7 separate regions of the Homo sapiens genome follow, and all the other regions are reported to be linked to region 5. The links are microRNA targets in miRTarBase. Many come from high-throughput screens and were not tested one by one. Region 5 holds a microRNA gene; each other region holds the end of a gene's coding sequence.

Region 1 (3,096 bases), not on the chromosome of region 5:
TTTAACTTCTTTCTGGGCTCTGAAAGGTACATTTAGAAAAATTTGGAATGCTATATGCAAAAGATTAAAAATACTCGTGTCTATTTAACAGGAATGTATTATGGTGCATCCACATGAGGGAGTACTTAAGTCACAAAACAATGAAGAGTTCTATATAACGTAAAATGGTCTCCAGGATAGAGTAAGTGGAAAAGCAAAGTGCAGAACATTTATGGTATACCCACTACATTTGTGTAAGAAAGGGTGAGAAATGTGAATGTATGCACATAGGTGTATTTGCTTATGTTTCAAAAAGAAACGAGTAAACCCAAAGCTAATAAAAATTGTTAGCAGGGGAAGGAAGGAGATGAGGATGGAAGCTATTCTGTGAATTTAACTTTTTCTAGAGTTTTGACTTTAGAACCATCTAAAATTTAACATGACTGAAAAAGTAAAACATGACCCTAAACCTATCAACACATTGTCTTAGTCTATTCCTGCTGCTGTAACAAAATGCCATAGACTAAGAATTTATAAATAATATTTACTTCTTGCACTTCTGGAGGCTGGAGAAGTCTAAGATTTGGCACCAGCAGATTGGTGTTTGGTAAGGGCTTGCTTTCTGCTTCCAGTACGGTGCCTTCTCGCAGTATCAGAAGGGTAAAAGGGACAAACTCTCTCCCTCAAGCCCTCTTAGAAAGGCACTGATCCCATCCATGAGTGTGGAGCCCTCCTGGCCTAATCACCCCTAAGGGCCCCACCTCTTAATAATACCAACGCATTGTGGATTAGATTTTAATGTGAATTTTGGAAGTACACAAAATGTTCAAACTATAGCATGTATATATATCAAGTTGGCAGTATAAACTACTTGCAAGTAACTTTAGAACACAAGTGTTTGCCCATTGGTAGTGAGATGGATTCTAAGTTGAGATATTAGCTAGAACATTCCAGTTGGTAAGTTGTCATACATATTTAAGAAATATGAATCCAAACTAGATTGTGATAATTCCCTCATAACTTCACCTCCACCTGAGTTTCGGACTCTGCTATCCAGCTGCGTACTAGTCTTCATCAGATGACACAGGCATCTCCAACACCGCATGACTGGAACCTGAACTCGCTTATCTTCTGTTTCCCCTAAATTTGTTCTTTTTCCAAATTTTCTATCTTGGAGTTGCCCTCTTGGAATTGCCCTCTACCATCTATCTAGACACTTTTATCAGGAACCCAGAGAACCATCTTTACCTCTTAGATATAATCAGTCTTGTAAGTCTTGCCCAATTTTCTTTCCTAAAACTTTAAAAATCTGTCCTCTCTCCTCTACTAATACCACAATGTTAGTTCAGGCCTTCATCTTCCTCAACAACTAAGACATCCTCCTAACTGGTTGTCTTGCCTGTAGCTTTTTCCTCTCATGGCCATCTGCCACACAGCTGTCACTTACCTGTATTACAAACTGATGATGTCATTCCTGTGCTTAAAACTCTGTAATACCTGGTATGTCAGTCTTAATTCCTTCACATGATTTGTGAGATCCTCCACAATACGGGCCTTGTCTTGTGCTTCATATTTCTGATCTACTGAAGTGACTGTGGTTCTCTGATGCTACAGAGTGCCTTTGCTTCTTTGTGCTTTTGTTCCCTCTGTGTGCAGAAAAAAATCTCACCCCTCACCTCCTGATTTATTAAGTTCTCCAGGAATATTTTCCTGATGTTAAGTAGGTACTTCCATTCAGTATGTATATTTTTATCACTGGGCTGATGATCACACTGTTGAGTTACTGAATGAGAACTTTGTGCTACCCTTACTCATTTCTGTTATGGATTAAATAAACATAAAAATAGGGAATATATACTGTTCCAACAAACTTTTCCTCTTTAGATGGAGACTTTCAAGGACTTAAAGAGGCATAATTTGTTTTAAAGTCCCTTAAGGATGGACAAGAAAACACTTAGTGGTTCTTTTGTTCAGCCATCACAAGAAGAAGTGGAGCATTAGATAATCCAGAACAGCAGCCTTGCTATCCAATCTGTTTATCTAACAATAATAGTTAAGGGGAGCTCTGCAGGTCAGCAAAGCTAGTCCAGGATTACAAACTGCCATACATGAGCTACATGTCAATTAGTTGGATTATGTATAAGATAGCATTTTATGAAATAATGCTCTTAATACAAAAACCCCTATATGTTACTAAAAGATTAAACTTAAAAGGAGGGTATAAAAAACATTCACAGAAAATATTTATTATGCTACTCTTTGTACTATGTATGGGAACAGTATGTTTGTTAAGTCCAAGAGAAAAGATAATTCACTGACATGAAACACCCAAATGTCTTCATTTTAAAAGTAGTTTAGAGATAGCATCAGGTAGGCCAAACAACTGTACTGGGCCCCTGTAGAGATTAGGGTTTGGTCTATTAAAAAAAATCTTTGCTTGCTGGAACTGCAAGCTTGGCTTCCCTGCAAGCTCAATAGGTTCTGGAGCTCATTTACCATGTCGCTCGCTGGATCCCAGAAAGTTGCCCATGGTCAGCTAAGTGACGGAAGACTATACGACTAAGCCTCCAGCGCCGCTTCACACCACGCGGACGGGACGTCATAACACACCGATTTCTGATTCTAACAGGACAGCTATCCCGGGGGAGGGCAGCAATTTCTTCATCAGCCACATCCTAAGGGAAATCACATTATTACACAGATCACATTACATTGTTGCACATGTATTTTGCTCCTTCTCACTTGCAGGTAATTTTCTTTTCTTTTTTTTTTTTTTTTGAGACAGAGTCTCGCTCTGTCACCCAGGCTGTGGGTGTTAGATTGTGCAATGTCACAATCTCAGCTCACTGCAACCTCCGCCTCCTGGGTTCAAGTGATTCTCCTGCCTCAGCCTCCCGAGTAGCTGAGATTACAGGTGTGCACTACCACACTCAGCTAATTTTTTGTATTATTAGTAGAAACGGGGTTTCACCACGTTGCCCAGGCTGGTCTCAAACTCCTGAGCTCTGGCAATCCGCCCATCTCTGCCTCCCAAAGTGCTAGGATTACAGGTGTGAGCCACAGCGCCTGGCCACTGGCAGGTAATGTTCATTGCATGAGTACCATAATTCATTTATC
Region 2 (3,096 bases), not on the chromosome of region 5:
ATGGCTCATGCCTGTAATCCCAGCACTTTGGGAGGCCGACAAGGGCGGGTCACTTGAGGTCAGGAGTTCGAGACCAGCCTGACCAACATGGTGAAACCCCATCTCTACTAAAAAATACAAAAATTAGCCAGGCATGGTGATGCACATCTGTAATCCTAGCTACTCGGGAGACTGAGGCAGGAGAATCTCTTGAACCTGGGAGGTGGAGGTTGCAGTGAGCCGAGATTGTACCACCTCACTCCAGCCTGGGTGACAGAGCAAAACTCTCAAAAAAAAGTAAAATTTCAAAAAAGCTTCACAATATAAACCTTAATTTTAATGACATATTGGCTAGTCAATAAACAAGTCTTATCTCATCTCATCTCTTTTCTGATAACAAACACCCGATGTGTTCAATTTGCTTTCATATTTAAGTCTTTCCTGAATTGCTGTCATCATTCAACAACAGTTGCATGTCGCCTTGCTAGCTGTCAAAGTAGACTTCATCCCCAAATGGATATCTGTAATGAAAGAATACAAAGGTGAAATTTTATTTAAAAATTTTTTAAAAGAATTTGGTTTTGGATTAAAAGGCATGCAAGCAGCATTAATTCCACTCACAGTTACAGTCTATCACCTGGGGCATTCACTACTTTTCAGAGTCAGATCACAGTTCAAAAGACAGCTCTCACCTTGGGGGCATATTCCCCAAGTCAGTGTGAACATGTCTTGTCCCAAGAGGACACTTTATACGCATGGATGTTCACAAATTTATTCTAAACTGCAGGTGTCTGTCAGGATTCATTTGTTAAACATGTCCTCTGTGTTAAAAATCCTAAAATCCTTTTGCATTTCTTAGAAAAAATCACGTTTCTGATGAAATTCTAAAGATGTTTGCAATATTAAACTAGAATATATTAACATGTATAATTTTGAGACAAGGTCTTGCTCTGTCACCCAGGCTGGAGTACAGTGGCTCGATCATAACTCACTGCCACCTCACGATCCTCTTGCCTCAGCCCTCCAAGTAGCTGGGACTACAGGCGTGTACCACCATGCCTGGCTAGTTTTATTTTTAGTACATAGCCTTGAACAACTGAGCTTAAGCGATCATCCTCCCTCAACCTTCCAAAGTGCTAGGACTGTAGGCATGAGCCACTGCACCTGGCCTAAAATTACATTGTTACAGGCACGTAAGTAACACTTCCTGGATCCAAAAATGTGTATTCTGCATTTCAACAACTGAACTTAAGCGATCATCCTCCCTCAACCTTCCAAAGTGCTAGGACTGTAGGCATGAGCCACTGCACCTGGCCTAAAATTACATTGTTACAGGCACGTAAGTAACACTTCCTGGATCCAAAAATGTGTATTCTGCATTTCAACAACTGAACTTAAGCGATCATCCTCCCTCAACCTTCCAAAGTGCTAGGACTGTAGGCATGAGCCACTGCACCTGGCCTAAAATTACATTGTTACAGGCACGTAAGTAACACTTCCTGGATCCAAAAATGTGTATTCTGCATTTCATATTAAAATAAAAAAGCAAGTGCTTGGGATACAAATATCTGCATGAAAATTTAAAGACTTTATTCCTGACTGGTATCACTTTTAGTAAGCAGTTGAACATAACTTGTAGTGTGAATATGGTTAAAACAAAGGACACCTGATGTCTGTGAAGTCTGCTAAGGACAGGTACAAAATTTATGCATTGCTTTTTAAAAAGTTTAAAATGAGGAATGCTTTTGATAATCAGAAAGACTAATGTAAAGTGCTGACTGATGTCCTGTCTGCAGTTAAGGAAGACACCCAACTCTCTTCTTCCTCATCATGGTATTCTCTATGTATAGATCTCTAAAAATGCAAACTTCCTATGGACAAGACAATATGATTTGCTATAATATGAATTAAGATATGGTAATATCTAATAGTCTCCACTGCTAGGATTCTGAGTAACACAAAAAATAGGTTTTATAAAAAGCCCATGCACTTCAATTGGTGGGGGAAAAGAATAAAGTCATTTTCAGTCGACTGACTCTGTAAAACAGATTACCAATATAACAAGCTATGTTATCTAAATTGCCCTGGCAGTCTTCAGTTTTCTCTAAGTAAACAAAGTAAAAGGAACAATAAGGATGCAGGCGTAGTAATAGCTGTGGAAAAGATGAAACTACAGCCACAGTGACCTGTGGGCAGCCTGCGTAGAGATAAGCTGAGGTGTCAGTCAGACTGATCCTGGTAACGATACTCCATGGCTGCATGAAGATGCTGGAGGCATCAAGTGGGTGGCCTTAACTCTAGTGGATTCACTAGGCAATGTAAATTGGTTAGTGGGTTCCCGTAAGTGCCTGTAACAATAAAATTTCTTTTTCAATGTCCCCAATTCAAACTGGCCTCCTTAACTATCCAGAATCAGTGATGCCTGTCATCTGTTCATCTTAAAATAAACACTTCTTACTTTATGGGATGTAAATATCAAAGAGAAGATGAAATGAAAAGCTTTTACATATATAACGTGTTTGTTAATTCTAATTGTCAGTAAAAATGTGAATGTTGAAGTTGAAATGTGAATGTTGAAGTTGGCACCTTTGTAGTAATCAGAATTCTTGCAGAGAAGAGAAAGAGAGTGAAGAGTATACTTTACAAAGCTCGAAGGAGACTTGAGGCTGTCGTTTGTGCTGGTGTTCCTCTAGCCACAGGGGCTGCTGACCGGATCCTGTCCACGTGGTCCAGCCACACCTCTTGCGGGGCTGTATGTGCTGCCTTGGTCTGGGCTGCCTGCGGCTTCAGACTTGAGCTGGGCCTTTTCCGCTGCGGGTGAACCTTCTGTATTCCCTGATGTGTCTTGGCCAGAGACAGGCTTGGCCGACTGGCTGCTTTCAGTACTGCTTTCTTTCGGTGTGCCTTCCCCCAGGATTCCACCTGTCTCCTTGGGCTTTGTATCCAAAACAGGTGATTTATGCTATAAAGTACAAAATTACATTTTAACTGTTTAATGTAATGTGAAGTCTTAGTAATCAAACATATCTAAAAAGTTCCCACCCAAATCCGTTGTAGCAAGCTCCAAACTCTTTCAAATCCAGGGTCCAGTGCTGGGTTATAATTATATAAATGTTA
Region 3 (3,096 bases), not on the chromosome of region 5:
ACCTTAGAAGTTACTCAAACAAGAGGTGAAACAAATAAGTAAACAAAAAAAGACCACTTTATCTTCCTTTCATCCTTAAAGAAGGCAGGTGTCTGTACACTGCTTTGTGATCCTTCGAAGAATAAAAAGCTGTAACCCAAATCTCAGTATAAGGGATGAAGAAGGAAAATGATAGCAGCTGATGACTGGGATGCGACCACAAACCCATATAGTAAACTAAGTTATCAACGTACTCCCTTACCACGAAGGACTTCATTCAGTCATTTAAAAAGCAAGGGACTAGTTCAAATCATGATTAAGGCTATAAAAGAACACGACTGAGTATTCACAGAGCACCAATTACCTCAAGTTTAGACTAGGTGTCAATCTACAAACATACTACCCTGCATTAATCTTCACAACACACCTGCGAGGACATTACAAGAAGGCCCAGCCAAAATTAGTTCCTCATTTAATGGGATATGGCTTTCAGTGGGTTCCTGTAACACCATCTCTTTCTTGGAGAAATGAGGACCTGCAAAATAGTCCCCCTCACAATGAGATCTCTATCTTCAAATCTCTGAGAGCCCAAGTTATTTACTCTCATTGCTCAAGTTGCTTTCCTCTCTCTGTTGAGGTGTCAGAAATGGTCACGTTAGATTGGCCTCAGACAACCACAAAAGTTAACAAGCAGTCCCAAAGTACCGTGAGGTTTAACCACTGGAAATGTAAACTGCCGGTCCTGTCTTTGCCCTTCTACTTCCTCGCGTGACCAGAGTCAAATCACAATGTCCTTCAACTAACCAGATTCGCTCATCTGTGGACTAGGTTAACAGAAGAGGCTAGGCCAAATCTATGATACGGATCTAACAACCCAAATTTTTTAAATTAAGTCTTCAAAAAAAAAAGAAAGAAGTTGAGAGAGAGAAAAGTGATTTTTAAACTAACATATACAGTCTGAAGCGCTGTAATATGGAAACTTCCTGAACCACCTAATGAAAAATCATGAAAAGGGATCAACCTGTTGAAAGAATAGAGACAGGTGAGGGGATAATTTTTGTCTCTCATAATTGAGAAGTAAATCCAATCACTATTACAGAAGACTATTTATATATGCACCATCCATCTTTACTGATATACTATACATATGCCTTAATGGCTTATAAAAAATCCTATGTAAATTAACATTTGAAACAAGTTGTCATAGCAGAATGGAGTAACCTGCTGTAAGGCACTGAGAGAATACAAAGGAGAAGTATGTCATGCACAATCTCACTTCCTCATCTCAAATATTATGTAAAAACCACTTGCAAATACCATAGTTTACTCACAGTTGGCACATTTTAGAAATCAACAAAGTTTTGAAAAACAATACAAGTGAAAAGATGATTTAATTTGCAAAGAACTCCTGAAATACTCCATAAGCCCCCCACTAAAAACCTGTAAAGAGTTTTTCTTGCCTCTGACCTGAAAATTCAAGAAGAAAAGTTGTAGTTATAAGAAAATAAAATAACAGGCCAAGCACAGTGGCTCATGCCTGTAATCCCAACACTTTGGGAGGCCGAGGCAGGTGGATCACGAGGTCAGGGGATTGAGACCATCCTGGCCAAAATGGTGAAACCCCGTCTCTACTAAAAACACAAAAATTAGCTGGGTGTGGTGGCGCATGCCTGTAATCCCAGCTACTCGAGAGGCTGAGGCACAAGAATCGCTTGAACCCAGGAGGCAGAGGTTGCAGTGAGCCAAGATCACACCACTGCACTCCAGCCTGGCGACAGAGTGAGACTCTGCCTCAAAAAAAAAAAAAAAAAAAAAAAAGCAAGACAGAAAATAACAAAGACTCCTTAGCCCAAATTGTACCAGCAAGACTAAAGAAAATAATTTTTCTACTTCACGATTCCTTTCCTTAACTGTAAATTGATGACACTGTACTTAATACTTTAAAAACCCAGTCAAAGCAAACCAATGACTTGATCCTACCAACTCTAAGGAAACTAAGGGTATACACCCTAAGTTATCCAAACACAACTGAGGTTGAGGTCATTAAACCGGTAAGTATACGCCCTATACTAACTCACAGCTGAAAGTGTACATGGAGCAAAAAACAAAGAATACATATCCCAAGCGAATATTTTGTCTGGTGACACATCAGGAAGCCACAAGCTCCACTTCATTTAAAAAATTATTTGGGTATCAGCGGTGTGGCAAACATTCAAAATTCTCCTTCAAACAGTTGGAAGAAAACATGTAATACATTCCAGAGCAAAGATGAATCAAAAAGTATCTTTTTGCTCAGGAAAAGAATTTCTTCATTCAATTACAGCATAATTCATTGAAAGGGGAAGTCATGAGTCTCTTATGAGAGTTCCTGAACAGTTTATAAATACAACAAGAACATTTATTCAATAAATAAGTGGTTCCTAAAGTCTTTACTGATGATCTCCAGGATTGTCCATCGCTATGGTCCAGGCCAGCTCCACTTTCTCTGACAGGCTTTAGCTGCCAGTGGAATGGGATGTTTCCTGTCTTTAGGTGACTCTTCTTGTGTCATACAGACTTTCATCAATATGTCTCTTCATAGTCTGAATCCTGGAGGGAGCAAAACAGCAGGTGTGAAACACAATTCCAGAGTTGGAATTTAGGCAAAGACCACATGTTAGGATCCTCCAAATGGAACCTGGCTTGGGGAGACAGCCACAGTGAAATGCCACTGACTCAATACACCTAAATTCCCACGGAGCTTCACAGGACCTCAATATAATTGGTGTCTATTGGGCTAATTTCTGCTTTGAAGCCCTAGTGGTTTCCTTTCCCTTGGTGAATATTTTTTAGAACCTCAACACACAAGAAAAGATGCCCGCCTACCGCACCCTTTCTTAGCAAAACAAGTGTCAGTGGAATCACCCCAGCGATCCTCTCCTCACTCTCTTGCAGAAATGTGCAAAATTGTGGTTAGGAATTTAGACTAAGTGTCAGTCTACCACTGAGTTCCACCTCTTGTGGCTGTGTGACCTTGGATAAAGTTATTAACTTCTCTAAGCCTCAGTTTCCTCATCTGTAAAATGGGGATAATAAAAATACACCTCATAGAACTGTTATGAGAATTGAATGAGGCAA
Region 4 (3,096 bases), not on the chromosome of region 5:
TCTAGCATAAGGGCTGTCCTGCAGTAATGCATTAAACCACGTAACAAACGAACTCAAGAAGAGGGATGTGGCTCTGGATTTGTGACCCTCAACATAACATTTACCACCTTGGGCTTCGGCTTCAACATCAGTTAAATGGAGGGACACAGACGACTCTTTGGCTCTTATACTCTATGACATGATCACTGGCCACCTTAGAAAATCAAGCCTATTTAGACCACGGTTTGTGAGAAGTCAGACTCTCTGAGGCTCAGTTTCCTTATCTATAAAAAAGAAGATGATAACATTGGGAGAAGCCATCTTAAGCAGCGAGGAAAGAAAAGGACAGTGGAGTCAAGTGAACAGTCTCAGATCTCAGCCCCGTGTAATCTAAGGGAAGGTTACTGGAGCTGGGTCTACTTTCGTCATCTGCAAAATGGGGATAAGAATGCCTGTTGTAAGGACAGTTGAATGATCTTGCTCATGCCAACTTACAGAAGGTACGAAATAAACGCCGATCTCCTTTATTCTGATCTCACATTCAGCAAATGTGAGAGAAATGTGAATGTACTGAAATGTCTGCCAGAAAAAAGAAAATCCAACCCCTCAAAAGAATGACATCAGGGGTTTTGATATCTATTCACCTACACTTCCCTCTTCCACAGGAAGCGGCCCACCTTCTGACCCACACTGCCCATCTCTGTGCTTATCATGGAGCTTTCAAGAGTGAGGATCGGAGGCTGTATTGAGCAGTGGGCACAAACCACAGGGAGCGCTGTTCAAAAATGGAAAACAAGGTGGCCCTGACACCGGGTGCTGCTGGGCACCCTCTCAGACCTGCCCTGCAACAGCATCAGGAGGCTGAGGGTCCCCAGCCAGAAGGCCCAAGAGGGGCCCAGGCTGGAAACTTTACTGCGAAGCAGCCCTCATCTTAAGGTGGCTCAACACCACACCTGAGATCTAGCCCATGCGACAGTATGGAAGCAGGAGGCCCTACTCCACCACAGAAAGAACATTTATGGGCGCCTAAGCCCTGGGAGAATGGCACCTGAGGGAACAGAGCGTGCCCACAAGCAGACCTTGGGGAGGGAGAAGAGGCAGCCCTGCTCCTAGTCGCAGCCAGCGTGCGTCATGTCCAGGCCCCACAAGGGTGACCCTGGCTCAGGTTCTCATGCTCCAGAAGCTGGCCCAGGTGGCAGTGGGTTCCCTATGGAGGCAGCTCATCATTCACAACACAGCAACAAACCTTCTGCTCTCATGAGGAGAATGTATTTTAAACTTGGGAAGAGTCATAATTCTGGGATGTTTCACATGTTGTCAGCTTTAACCTTCTACAGACACAGGCCCTCTCCTCTGTGAGGAGGGACCTCTGGCATGTGTGGGTGTGTGGTGGGTCCCTCTCCCTATTAGCAGAAATGTGTTGGGCATGAGCCAGGTTTATGATTTGGATTGTGTCCTGCACATAACACCTGTGAGAATACAACTGGGACTAGGACAATGCGGGAAGCATATTCTTCATGAGGCGGTAACCAAAAGGCTTGGCTATACCAAAGGATTCTGGTGGCCGGGCACGGTGGCTCACACCTGTAATGCCAGCACTTTGGGAGGCCAAGGCGGGTAGATCACTTGAGGTCCAGGAGTTCGAGCCCAGCCTGGCCAACATGGTGAAACCCTGTCTCTACTAAACATACAACAATTAGCTGGGCATGGTGGTGGGTGCCTGTAATCCCAGCTACTGGGGAGGCTGAGACAGGAGAAATGCTTGAACCCGGGAAGCAGAGGTTGCAGTGAGCCGAGATTGCACCACAGCACTCCAGCCTGGGTGACAGAGCAAGACTCCACCTCAAAAAAAAAAAACCACAAAAAAACACAAAAGGATTCTGGGTGTAACAATCTCAGTAGAGCCAGCGGGTGACTCTGGTTCTCCTAAAATTCTGCCCTTACTTGCCACTCACCACACCCCCAGATCTGAAGGGCCAGCCCTTTTCTACCTATGACACCTCACCAGCAAGTAAAGGGCACAGGACCTCAGAAGTCTGTGGTGCTAAGGATGAAGACTCTACTCAGAGAAGGTGCTCAGCCCTAGTGAGGAGGTTCTGGGAAGCAGGTGGGCCTGCTCAATGCAGTCCCTAACCCTTGGGAGCATCCATGTGAGAGGTAAAGGTGCAAATGACTTGGGCATGTTGACTCCCTACTGAGGAAGGCAGGGCCCCTCACATCTGCAGTGGCCGTATGCATCAGAGAACGGCATGACTGCACATGTGAGAACTGGGTGCACCCGAGCAGTGTCAATAGGAATCCCTTCCCTATTCCATGCCAAACAGTCTTCCCCAGACACAAAGTTTCCAGGTCCTGAGGCTTGACTCTTCTAAGGCTCAAAATGGGTTCTGTTTCCAGACGTGCTTGCCTTGCTTGTCTTTGCTTGTCTTAAGGACTCTATTTCAGGCCAATACTTGATCCTCAGACAAACTGGGACAGGTTGGGAACTTTGATGTTGAGATCGCCAATGTTGATGTTCCGAGGAATCTCTGGCAGGTTGATGTTTTTCACAGCAGACACAGCCCGCGCAGGGGCTGCTGAAAGGCCACCCTAAGAAGAAATGAGAGGCGAGTATGAGACAAATTCTCACTGTTATCTGCTTAATGCTAAAAAAAAAAAAAAAAAAAAAGCAAAAACAAAAACAAACAAGCAGGATGGGTGTGGTGGCTCACGCCTGTAATCCCAGCACTTTGGGAGGCCGAGGTGGGTGGATCACCTGAGGTCAGGAGTTCGAGATAGGCCTGGCCAACATGGTGAAACCCCATCTCTACCAAAAATACAAAAATTGGCCAGGAGTGGTGGCGGGCCCCTGTAGTCCCAGCTACTAGGGAGGCTGAGGCAGGAAAATCGCTTGAACTCAGAAGGCGGAGGTTGCGGTGAGCTGAGATCACGCCACTGCACTCCAACCTGGGCAACAGAGTGAGACTCTGTCTCAAACAAACAAACAAACAAAATAACAGGTGAAGGATGCCTAGAAAAATTCCAAACTGAGCACACACAACTGAAGTTTTAACTTTCCCCCCTTATTCCTCAAAAGTAGCCAACAAAACAATCTTGAGGTTAGATGGGGTTTGGCAC
Region 5 (3,096 bases):
GTGTGCCCTGGCCCTAACCCTGTGTGTGCCCCGTCCTTGGGGAGGTTTCTAGAGATGGTGCCACCTTTGGGGAAGAAGTGGAGCTTTTCCTATCAGAGCTACTCTGTGGTACTGGTGGAGAGGTCTTCCATGATGCATTCGATTTATTTTTTGACCAATCCTACATAGTGGACTCTTTTGAAAGCATTAAATCTAGCCTTAAAGCACCCTCGGGTGGTGCCGAGTTTAGGAACTAGAACTGGTGTCTGAATGCCTGAACGCACGGCGAAGCTGACAGTGTGCACACTCTTCTTGGTGGGTCGTGCACCTGCAGGCGTCCTGCTTGCTTACCATGGCAGTTTCCTCGAAAGAGGCGGCAGTTCCCTCATCGGCTCACTGCATGTTTGACAAGACACCGTCTTGCTGTCTTCCCTGCTGCCCTCTCTTCATGTATCACAGATGGTGCTCTGCAGACCTCTCTGCTGTGGCACTTCCCTCCCTGAATGGCTTCCTGCAAGAGGTGCTAATTGCAAGTAAGGGATGGAGTGCGGCCCGGACCGCAGAGCTTATTTCGTGGGTGGTGTGTTGCCACCTTCCTGACTCTCAGTATCCCGTCCGTCCTCAGGCCTGCTGCTGGGACGCGCTGGAAGCGAGCACCCAAGTCAGGTACTCGAATGGAGGTTGTCCATGGTGTGTTCATTTTATTTATGATGAGTATTACATGGCCAATCTCCTTTCGGTACTCAATTCTTCTTGGGAAACGTCACGAGGGGAAAGCCCAGCCGGCACCTGCGCAGGGTAAGGAAGTGGATCACCTCCGCATGACAGGTGCTCTCTGTGTGACTTACATCACTTGGCTCATATCCCGGCCATCATTAGGAGGAATTCCCCGAAATGATGCTGACGTTTTAGTTGACATGGTGGTCTTCTAGTCGCATCCTTGAAGACTCGTCAGTGAATAAACCACATTTAGTCAACCTTTTTAGGTGTGAAATCATCTTGGCTGTGTGGCACACTTTAGGGAAAGGAACTCCTGGCTGAATGGAAGACATCCACATTACGCCCTCAAATACCTTATCTTCTGGGTGACCTCTGGGAAGCAAGGGGTGAAGGGGGTTTCCTCAGCAGTGAGAATTAATGTTGTTTAAAGACACATTTCCATGGCACGACTCGGTTATTCCTACTGCAAGACGAGAATTGTTAATAGCATTTATTACTACCTTATGTTGCCAGCTGTGTGCCCTTGGAAAATCCCTTCACCTATCAGCTCTCTGGGCCTCAGTCTCTTCCTCTGTAAAGCAGGGTTAACAGCGGAGTGGAAACGTGCTCTTTGTGAAGTGTCTAGACAGCGTCTGGCACGTGGCTGTAGGATAAGCATTGTTTCTGAGGATGGTCATTATATGAATGTTATGTCATCTGCACTCATTGTCCTCTCGCCACTAGAATGGAAGCTCCCTGAGGGCAGAGTCCTTGTCTGTTTTGCCTGGTGCTGTGTCGCCAGATGTGCACAGTAGGTGTGATGCTGAATGAATGAATAGGCAGCGTGACCTGTTTTCTTGGTTGAACTCTCTTTGAGGCCTCCTGGAATGGAGTGCATGGAGTACAGTCACCTGAGCCTGTGCTGTCCCTGTGACGCAGCCCCACCCACCCTCTGAGGATGCTGCGCTGGACGAGGAGTCGCCAGCCTTCAGGTCGGGTCCTCCCTCAAACCCCTGTAGGCTGGACTGAACACGGTCACATGGTTCATTGGCAGCCCCCTTCTCTGTGTGAAATCCTGCTTCAGAGACTTCCAGAGGAGATACCGGCTCTGGAGGTGGACCTTGGTGTTCCAGCCCCTCTAGGGTAGGTGACCAGGGGCTGACTCTAGCTCGGGCTGACCTGTGATGTGTGTGTGCATAGCCTCGCCCCCACTGCCTGCTCCAGGGCTACAGAAGCTGGTCCATGACCAACCATGTTCTGACCACTGCCTGGGGGGCTTCTCGGAGGTAGAGAGAGAGAGAGAGCAAGAGGGGAGAGAGCGAGCCAGCAAGCCAGCGAGCCTGCAGCTGGAGTCAGCAGGGAGGTCCCGCAGGCAATGCCGCCTTTGGTGAAGAGGCATCTCGGTGTGTTCTTGCCCGTGCTGATGTTTGACCCTTGAGCAGAGGTTGCCCTTGGTGAATTCGCTTTATTTATGTTGAATCACACAAAGGCAACTTTTGTTTGAGTATCAAATCCTGCTTGGGATGGCTTCCGGGACCCAGTGGCAAGCTCAGGGGCATCTACACCCCTCCCGTGAGCAAGAATGGACGGGGTAGACGTGGGTGGTCTGCCCTCTGCGGTCCTCTGCGGTGGATGAGAACAGATGTCGCTCAGAGAACACAAGCTTCATTCATGATGGGGGCGGGGCTCGCGGCCCGGGGAGGATGGCGTTGGTGTCGCGTCGGCTTTAGCTCTTACCCTGGACCCTGTCTCTTTACATCACCATTTTGGCTGTGTTGATCCCAAAGACATTTTGACTCCACCATTTTTTTTTCGGAAGGTATTTGACCTCGCGGATACACAAAGAGCTCACACTTGGCAGGGTCTGTGACGAGTCTGCAGCCCCAGACCCCCGTCTAGCTCACAAGCACTGTGCTTCTTTCTGCACCTTTCCTTGTCTCTATCTTTCTCTTTCTATCCCCCAACCAAACATTGTTCCCAATTTTCTCCTGGGTTATGAAACAAATAGAGGCTATCAGTATCTCATCCCATTTGTATTAAATAATACTGATAAAAATAATCAACACAAAATAAAACTAAAAACAGCTGAAACGGCACAGTGCTAAATGTGTTCAGTTGACTACAAATTGGCAGAGGAATCCAATTTTCTTGACAACATTTCAGCTGTGACATTTGACCTGGGGAAATAGCAAGCTGCCGACGTGGCAGCCATGGAAGGAAATTCACGGTGGCGGCGGTGATAAACAGTGATATTTGATGTAGACAAGAACACATTGAGGAATCAAATCTTCATGCAGATTTTTAAATGGAAAAAATTGATCCTAATGAAAATGATTTGGGGAAAATAACAAGGGAAATAAGAGAAATGAAAACAGCTCAACAGCGCGGTCAGGAAAGCTAAACAGGGAATTGGATTAG
Region 6 (3,000 bases), not on the chromosome of region 5:
GAAGCAAGGATGATAGCAGTACCTAATTTTTTATTGTCTGCATGGTCTAAATAAGCTCTTAGAACAGGGCCTAACTCATAGTAAGCACTGAAGAAATGTTAGCCATTGTTGTTAGTTAACAATTGTTTCATTGCAGATACCCATTGACAACATGACCAATGAGATGGAGCAAAGGGTTGAACCTCATAATGATTACTTCAGTACTCAATTTCTGTTGAACTTTGCTATCCTTGGAACACACAACATTACAGTGGAATCTTCTGTGAAAGATGCCAATGGTATAGTATGGAAGACTGGTCCCAGAACTACCATATTTGTAAAATCCCTGGAAGACCCTTATTCCCAGCAAATTCGCTTACAACAGCAGCAAGCCCAGCAGCCATTACAGCAGCAGCAGCAACGCAATGCCTACACACGGTTTTAACCATGGAATGAATGCACTGCAGACTCTCAAGAGATCAATCAAATTGCCAGAAACAGTTTGGTTTTTCATATGGAATAAGTATTAAAGTTACAGTGTAGTTCATTTATTCATTGATTTTTGTAATGTAATATTCTGGAAAAAATTTTGTTTTCTTAAAAATTTTGTCTGACAGCTGGGCGTGGTTGCTCACGCCTGTAATCCCAGCACTTTGGGAGGCTGAGGTGGGCGGCTCACGAGGAGATCAAGACCATCCTGGCTAACACAGTGAAACCCCGTCTCCACTAAAAAATACAAAAAAATTAGCCAAGCATGGTGGCAGGCGCCTGTAGTCCCAGCTACTTGGGAGGCTGAGGCAGGAGAATGGTGTGAACCTGGGAGGCGGAGCTTGCAGTGAGCCGAGACTGTGCTCCAGCCTGGGCGACAGAGCGAGACTCCGTCTCAAAAAAATAAATAAATACATTTTGTCTGAAAAATAACTGGGATCCTGGCCAGAAAGATTGTTCTTTCTTGTTTTATTATTAGTTTTTTCTGTTGCCAAGCTTTTTTTTCTTTCAAGAATAGTCACATGTTGAGATCACTGAATTGGTAAATTTGACCGCTACTCTTCCAAAATACATCATTTGCTGCCTGACTTAGACCTAGGATTCTGAGTTGTTCATTGGGAGGTTCTGACCAGTCACTACAAGGTTTATCCATGGTAGCAGAACCTGAGTCCTTCTGTAGATGGACTTGAAAGTGTTCCGTGCAACATCCAGCCTTCTGGATTATGAAAGCCCACAGTCTAACAGTATTGAAACATCCTGCTGTATTAGTTCAACCACATATTTATCTCTTCCTGTGCTAAAGCAGTCTTTATTATTTTCATATTTAATTGAAACAAAGAGCAGCTAGCAATTTCATAGAAAATTAATTTGTTTTTTCTGATGTGTCTGCAACTGTGTATAATACAGACATTTCACATTGTTTCCAAAAGTGAAGAACACTCATTTAATATCTTCAATGTTTTAAGTTAGAAGGGGTGGATCTTTTCCTTTGGTTGGTGATTGGTTTGGTTTATACTTGATGAGTTATGCTAGACTGATTGTTTAGAGAGAGCAGTCTCTTTATTACACAGGCTCAGTTTGTTGGGATGCTCAGGGAACAGAGTTTTCTGGTTAGCCAGAAAACCCCCTTTTTTCCTATTTTAATTCTGGTTGAAAACCATGATAAAATAGACTTTCTTAGCACAGTATGGTAGATATAACTTAACTGCTTTTTGATTGGGGATCATTTAGGGCTTCAGGATCACGATTTCTAAACATCAGGGATCATATGGTTGCAGATGCCGATGCTATAAGTAATTTGGCCGGATGCAGCTCCTAAGGTAAAGCAGGGTACTTTCCCTGGAATTTCCTTTTTAAATAAATATCTGTTTCTTTGCTTGTGTTTTGCCTTTTTCTCTTCAAAGTCAACATTAATTCAAAGGAGAATGGAGCTTAAGATAAAAAATAAAAAGGGGTTGTTGTTTTTTTTTTCTTTCTTGTCATGCGGCCTCTGGGACTGAGAAGTGATTTGCAACTTGGGTCTCTCCAAGATTGCTTGCCTTCATGAGCACAACCCATTGTACTGCTAACAGCCAGAACATTCTCATAAAATGTGTACAGATCTACAGTGTCCACGGTTGAATGACATCTCTTCAGATGCAGCCCAGTTGTATGAGGTTCACACAACCTACACAGTCATCTCAGCACCTGGGAACACGTGCTTAGGAAAAATTGCCAGAGCAGTGCAGAACCCCTTGTTCTTTTACCAGGTGTGGAAACAGCTGAATCAGAAAGCCTGGGTTTCACTCTTGGTTCTGGTGAATTAGCTGTGTGACCAAGCAAGTCACTTTACCTCTACATCTTAGGGGTTTTTTTTTTTGTCTGTCAAGTGACTGAATTAGACTGGTTTTCTGGATTCCAGCCTAGAGTTGTATTATCAAGTGACTGAAAGACTAAAAACAAACAAAAACATTTCTTAAATTGGAGATCTTTTTTATTTGTAATTAAGTGGCTATTTTCAGGGTTAAAGTTTACAATGTGGATTTCAAGCTTCTGGTGCCATTCAAGGTAGATTTCTCCAAAAAAGAAGCAAATCTTGTAAGCCATCAATTCCCTTTGAGAACTTCCCAAATGTTATGTTCTTAAAAGATAGGTTTTGATAGCTATGTTTATGAACTTTTTAACTTGGTGTATTATGGGCTCCTGGCACAAACTCAGAAAGGAATTTTTTTTTTTTTTTTTTGAGACAGAGTCTCGCTCTGTTGCCCAGGCTGGAGTGCAGTGGTGCAATCTCAGCTCACTGCAACCTCTACCTCCCAGGCTCCGGTGATTCTCCTGCCTCAGTCTCCCGAGTAGCTGGGATTACAGGCATGTGCCACCACGCCTGGTTAGTTTTTATATTTTTTAGTAGAGATGGGTTTCACCATGTTGGCCAGGATGGTCCCAAACTCTGGTGATCGCCCGTCTTGGCCTCCCAAAGTGCTAGGATTACAGGTGTGAGCCACCGTGCCTGGCCAGGAATTATTAAAATAAAAGCAAGTCCAAGAAGTTCAG
Region 7 (3,096 bases), not on the chromosome of region 5:
CCTTTTTTTGTGAGGTTCAAATCATTTTATGGTGAATTTGAGACATGATATAAAGAAAAAGTATTTTTAAATTTGACACATTTCTTAGTAAATAAATTGAAATGAAACAAATAATAATCTCCCTAGGCCTTTAGTTATTGGTTCTGCATGATAATGTGTTGGGGGGTGGAGGGAATCTGAAGTCTAACACATTTAACAGAAGCTAGTTAAACTTTATTTACTGTAGCTACTAATAAAGAGCTATAAACAGGGAAAGGTGTGTGTGTAAATGTTGTTTGTGGTGTCTAGGTAACATTGGTGCAGGAGAGAATTGAACTTGGTTTGTTTTTCTTTTCCTTCAGTTGCAGGAAGAGGCAGAGGAAGAGGAAGAGGAAGAGGACGTGGCCGTGGCAGAGGAAGAGGGGGTCCTAGGCGATAATGTCTCTCAAGATTTCAAAGTCATATGAGATTTGGGATATTTTTTGTACAGGTTGTGTTTGTTTATGTCAGTTTTTAATAAACATAAATGTGGGACAGAGCTGTCTATTTAGTATATCAAAGTTTTAGTAGTTTCCTCCACATTCACGAAATTACCACAGTGAGAGCTAAGCATTTCTACTGGGCAGTTTCATTTTTAGTTGATCAGGTTTTAAGTTTTTGAACTAAAATTTTTCTTTTTCTTTTTATGATGAATAAGGTTAAAATAAAAGCCTTAGACAAATTAAATTTGGCAGAGTTTAATTGAGCAAAGGACAATTCACAAATCAGGTAGCCCCTGAACCATAATAGGCTCAGAGGCTTCAGCCCAGCTGCATAGTTGAAGATTTATGGACAGAAGGAAAGTGATGTATGGAAAATGGAAGTGAGATACAGCAACAGCCGGATTAGTTACAGTTCAGCGTTTGCCTTATTTGAATATGGTTTGAACAGTTCGCTGTCTTTGGTTGGCTGAAACTTAGTGATTGCCACAAGAGTAGGGTACCGTCTGTTTACACGTCCAGTTAGGCTACAGTTCTATGTACTGAGAAACCTTTAAGCTGAACTTGAGATATGTAAAGAGACTTTAGGCTAAACTTAACAATATATATAGGATATATACCCTTCTACTTCACATGCACTGAATATGCATTTTATTGCTTTACTCTTCATTCTGTGGCACCTACCCACAGGGGAAGTAAGAAGTTTGTTTTGGTATTTCGGAAACTAAAGTCCTTATGGGATGGGGTCTAGAATTGATTCTCCTTTCCTGAGTTTTACTCCACGGAGTCTTAGGTACCTGGTAAAAAGTTGTCTTCTAAATTAAGGGTCATTGCTTTGTTGTCTAGCTGCTAATGTCTTACTTTTGTTTCTTTTGCTTTTTAATCAGTTCTTAATAGGATATAGTTTTATGTTTTCCAAGTTATAACTTGGAGTTAATGGTCACTAGATTATCAGTTATGAGCAGTGTTAAAATCTCCTATTAATGTGTAATGTACCTGTCAGTGCCTCCTTTATTAAGGGGTTCTTTGAGAATAAAAGAGAAAAGACCTACTTTATTTGACAGCAAAACTGTTCTAATTGTTAATAAGGACTTTTAAAAATTGTTTTTGATTTGCTAAGCTCAGAAAAAATGTCTCTCAGTGCATCAGTTCTTTGTAAAGCTTACTACGAAGTATTTATATGCTAAGGAAAACAACTGAGGATGTGGGTGGCTTAAATCTGTATTTTCATCATGTATGTGAGTTTTTTTTTTTTTAAGTAAAGAAATTTTCTGCAAAGATCGTTACCTTAAAAAAGTTTAGCCTGGGTGTGGTGGCTCACGCCTGTAATCCCAGCACTTTGGGAGGCCGAGGCAGGTGGATCACGAGGTCAGGAGTTGAAGACCAGCTTGGCCAAGAGGGTGAAACCCCATTTCTACTAAAAATACAAAAGTTAGCCAGGTGCAGTGACAGGCGCCTGTAATCCCAGCTACTCATGAGGCCGAGGCAGGAGAATTGCTTGAACCCAGGAGGCGGAGGTTGCAGTGAGCCGAGATTGTGCCACTGCACTCCAGCCTGGGCGATGGAGTGAGACTACGTCTCAAAAAAAAATCGAGAGAGAGATATATATATGTATTTATATATATATGTATTTATACTAATATATAAATATATACTAATAGATATATTAGTATACATGTAGAATGTACCTGTCATATATATTAGATATATAAATGTATATATTGGTATAAATAAATACTAGATATATATTTTTTTAAGTATCTTACCTCATCAAGTAAATTCAAATGCTTTTTGATTTTTCCACAGTTGATAATTTTTTTTTGTAAGTCATTGAAGTTATATAGTAATTAGCGTTTTTTCCCCCACAAATTATTGGCAGTGGTCACCCAGTTGTATTACAGGTTCTATGATCCAAAAAGGGATGTATGAAATTCATGATGATTAAGACAATTTTTTCTTTCTTTCTTTTGAGACAGAGTCTTGCTGTGTCACCCAGGCTGGAGTGCAGTGGTGCGATCTTGGCTCACTGCAACCTCTGCGTCCCGGGTTCAAGAGATTATTGTGCCTCAGCCTCCAGAGTAGCTGGGATTATAAGCGTGCGCCACCACACCCAGCTAATTTTTTTGTATTTTTAGTAGAGACGGGGTTTCACCATGTTGGCCAGACTTAAGACAATTCTTTAATAGTAAATATATTAAAGGTGAGTTGGCTTGACAAGATACAACCAATATGTAATTTTTCTCCACACGTTTTTTTTTTTTTTTTTTTTTTTTTTCTGGAGACAGTCTTGCTCTGTTGCCCAGGCTGGAGTACAGTGGCGCGATCTTGGCTCACTGCAAGCTCTGCCTCCCGGGTTCAGGCCATTCTCCTGCCTCAGCCTCCCGAGTAGCTGGGACTACAGGTGCCTGCCACCACACCCAGCTAATTTTTTGTCTTTTTAGTAGAGACGGGGTTTCACTGTGTTAGGATGGTCTCGTTCTCCTGACCTCATGATCTGCACGAGGCCTCCCAATGTGCTGGGATTACAGGCGTGAGCCACCGTGCGTCCCCGGCCTATACCTTTCATTAATTAATAAGCTGGGGGAATAAATAACTGGATTTCATTCTTTTCCATCTTCTGACCTGTTGGTGCTCCTAT

The links. The annotated mature microRNA hsa-miR-377-5p reads AGAGGUUGCCCUUGGUGAAUUC and lies in region 5 at 2,119-2,140, shown strand. An mRNA with a match to its seed (bases 2 to 7 or 8) in the 3' UTR can be bound and repressed. Matches are read on the target gene's strand: a 7mer-m8 pairs with bases 2 to 8, a 7mer-A1 pairs with bases 2 to 7 and ends in A, and an 8mer does both.
Region 1: the mRNA of MRPS14 is a reported target of hsa-miR-377-5p. The part of its 3' UTR that is shown has no 7-base or 8-base seed match.
Region 2: the mRNA of CLCC1 is a reported target of hsa-miR-377-5p. Seed matches in the 3' UTR shown: 7mer-m8 at 206-212.
Region 3: miRTarBase lists MPZL3 as a target of hsa-miR-377-5p. Seed matches in the 3' UTR shown: 8mer at 2,009-2,016, 7mer-m8 at 1,708-1,714 and 7mer-A1 at 687-693.
Region 4: the mRNA of AP3S2 is a reported target of hsa-miR-377-5p. Seed matches in the 3' UTR shown: 7mer-m8 at 1,758-1,764.
Region 6: miRTarBase lists INTS7 as a target of hsa-miR-377-5p. The part of its 3' UTR that is shown has no 7-base or 8-base seed match.
Region 7: the mRNA of SNRPD1 is a reported target of hsa-miR-377-5p. Seed matches in the 3' UTR shown: 7mer-m8 at 2,488-2,494.

Annotation. Positions count from the first base shown.
Region 1 is chr1:175,012,198-175,015,293 of GRCh38, forward strand. MRPS14 (mitochondrial ribosomal protein S14) reads right to left here. Exons shown (of 3, transcript NM_022100.3): 3 at 761-2,654. The coding sequence ends at 2,472. Among named protein-coding and RNA genes, the nearest start is that of MRPS14, 9.7 kb to the right of the region's middle. RefSeq lists a silencer at 462-662.
Region 2 is chr1:108,932,002-108,935,097 of GRCh38, forward strand. CLCC1 (chloride channel CLIC like 1) reads right to left here. Exons shown (of 13, transcript NM_001377458.1): 12 at 2,624-2,941; 13 at 1-500. The coding sequence ends at 2,669. It overlaps GPSM2 (G protein signaling modulator 2), which reads left to right. Exons shown (of 15, transcript NM_013296.5): 15 at 1-2,544. Among named protein-coding and RNA genes, the nearest start is that of CLCC1, 30 kb to the right of the region's middle.
Region 3 is chr11:118,227,353-118,230,448 of GRCh38, forward strand. It overlaps MPZL3 (myelin protein zero like 3), which reads right to left. Exons shown (of 6, transcript NM_198275.3): 6 at 1-2,568. The coding sequence ends at 2,542. Among named protein-coding and RNA genes, the nearest start is that of JAML, 3.9 kb to the left of the region's middle.
Region 4 is chr15:89,833,076-89,836,171 of GRCh38, forward strand. It overlaps AP3S2 (adaptor related protein complex 3 subunit sigma 2), which reads right to left. Exons shown (of 6, transcript NM_005829.5): 6 at 1-2,568. The coding sequence ends at 2,440. It overlaps ARPIN-AP3S2 (ARPIN-AP3S2 readthrough), which reads right to left. Exons shown (of 10, transcript NM_001199058.2): 10 at 1-2,568. The coding sequence ends at 2,440. LOC124903552 (a long non-coding RNA gene) reads left to right here and starts at 2,834. Exons shown (of 2, transcript XR_007064754.1): 1 at 2,834-3,096.
Region 5 is chr14:101,059,938-101,063,033 of GRCh38, forward strand. MIR377 (microRNA 377) reads left to right here and starts at 2,113; the gene lies at 2,113-2,181. MIR496 (microRNA 496) reads left to right here and starts at 636; the gene lies at 636-737.
Region 6 is chr1:211,939,248-211,942,247 of GRCh38, reverse strand. INTS7 (integrator complex subunit 7) reads left to right here. Exons shown (of 20, transcript NM_015434.4): 20 at 137-1,845. The coding sequence ends at 424. Among named protein-coding and RNA genes, the nearest start is that of INTS7, 95 kb to the left of the region's middle.
Region 7 is chr18:21,628,721-21,631,816 of GRCh38, forward strand. It overlaps SNRPD1 (small nuclear ribonucleoprotein D1 polypeptide), which reads left to right. Exons shown (of 4, transcript NM_006938.4): 4 at 342-3,096. The coding sequence ends at 418. Among named protein-coding and RNA genes, the nearest start is that of SNRPD1, 18 kb to the left of the region's middle.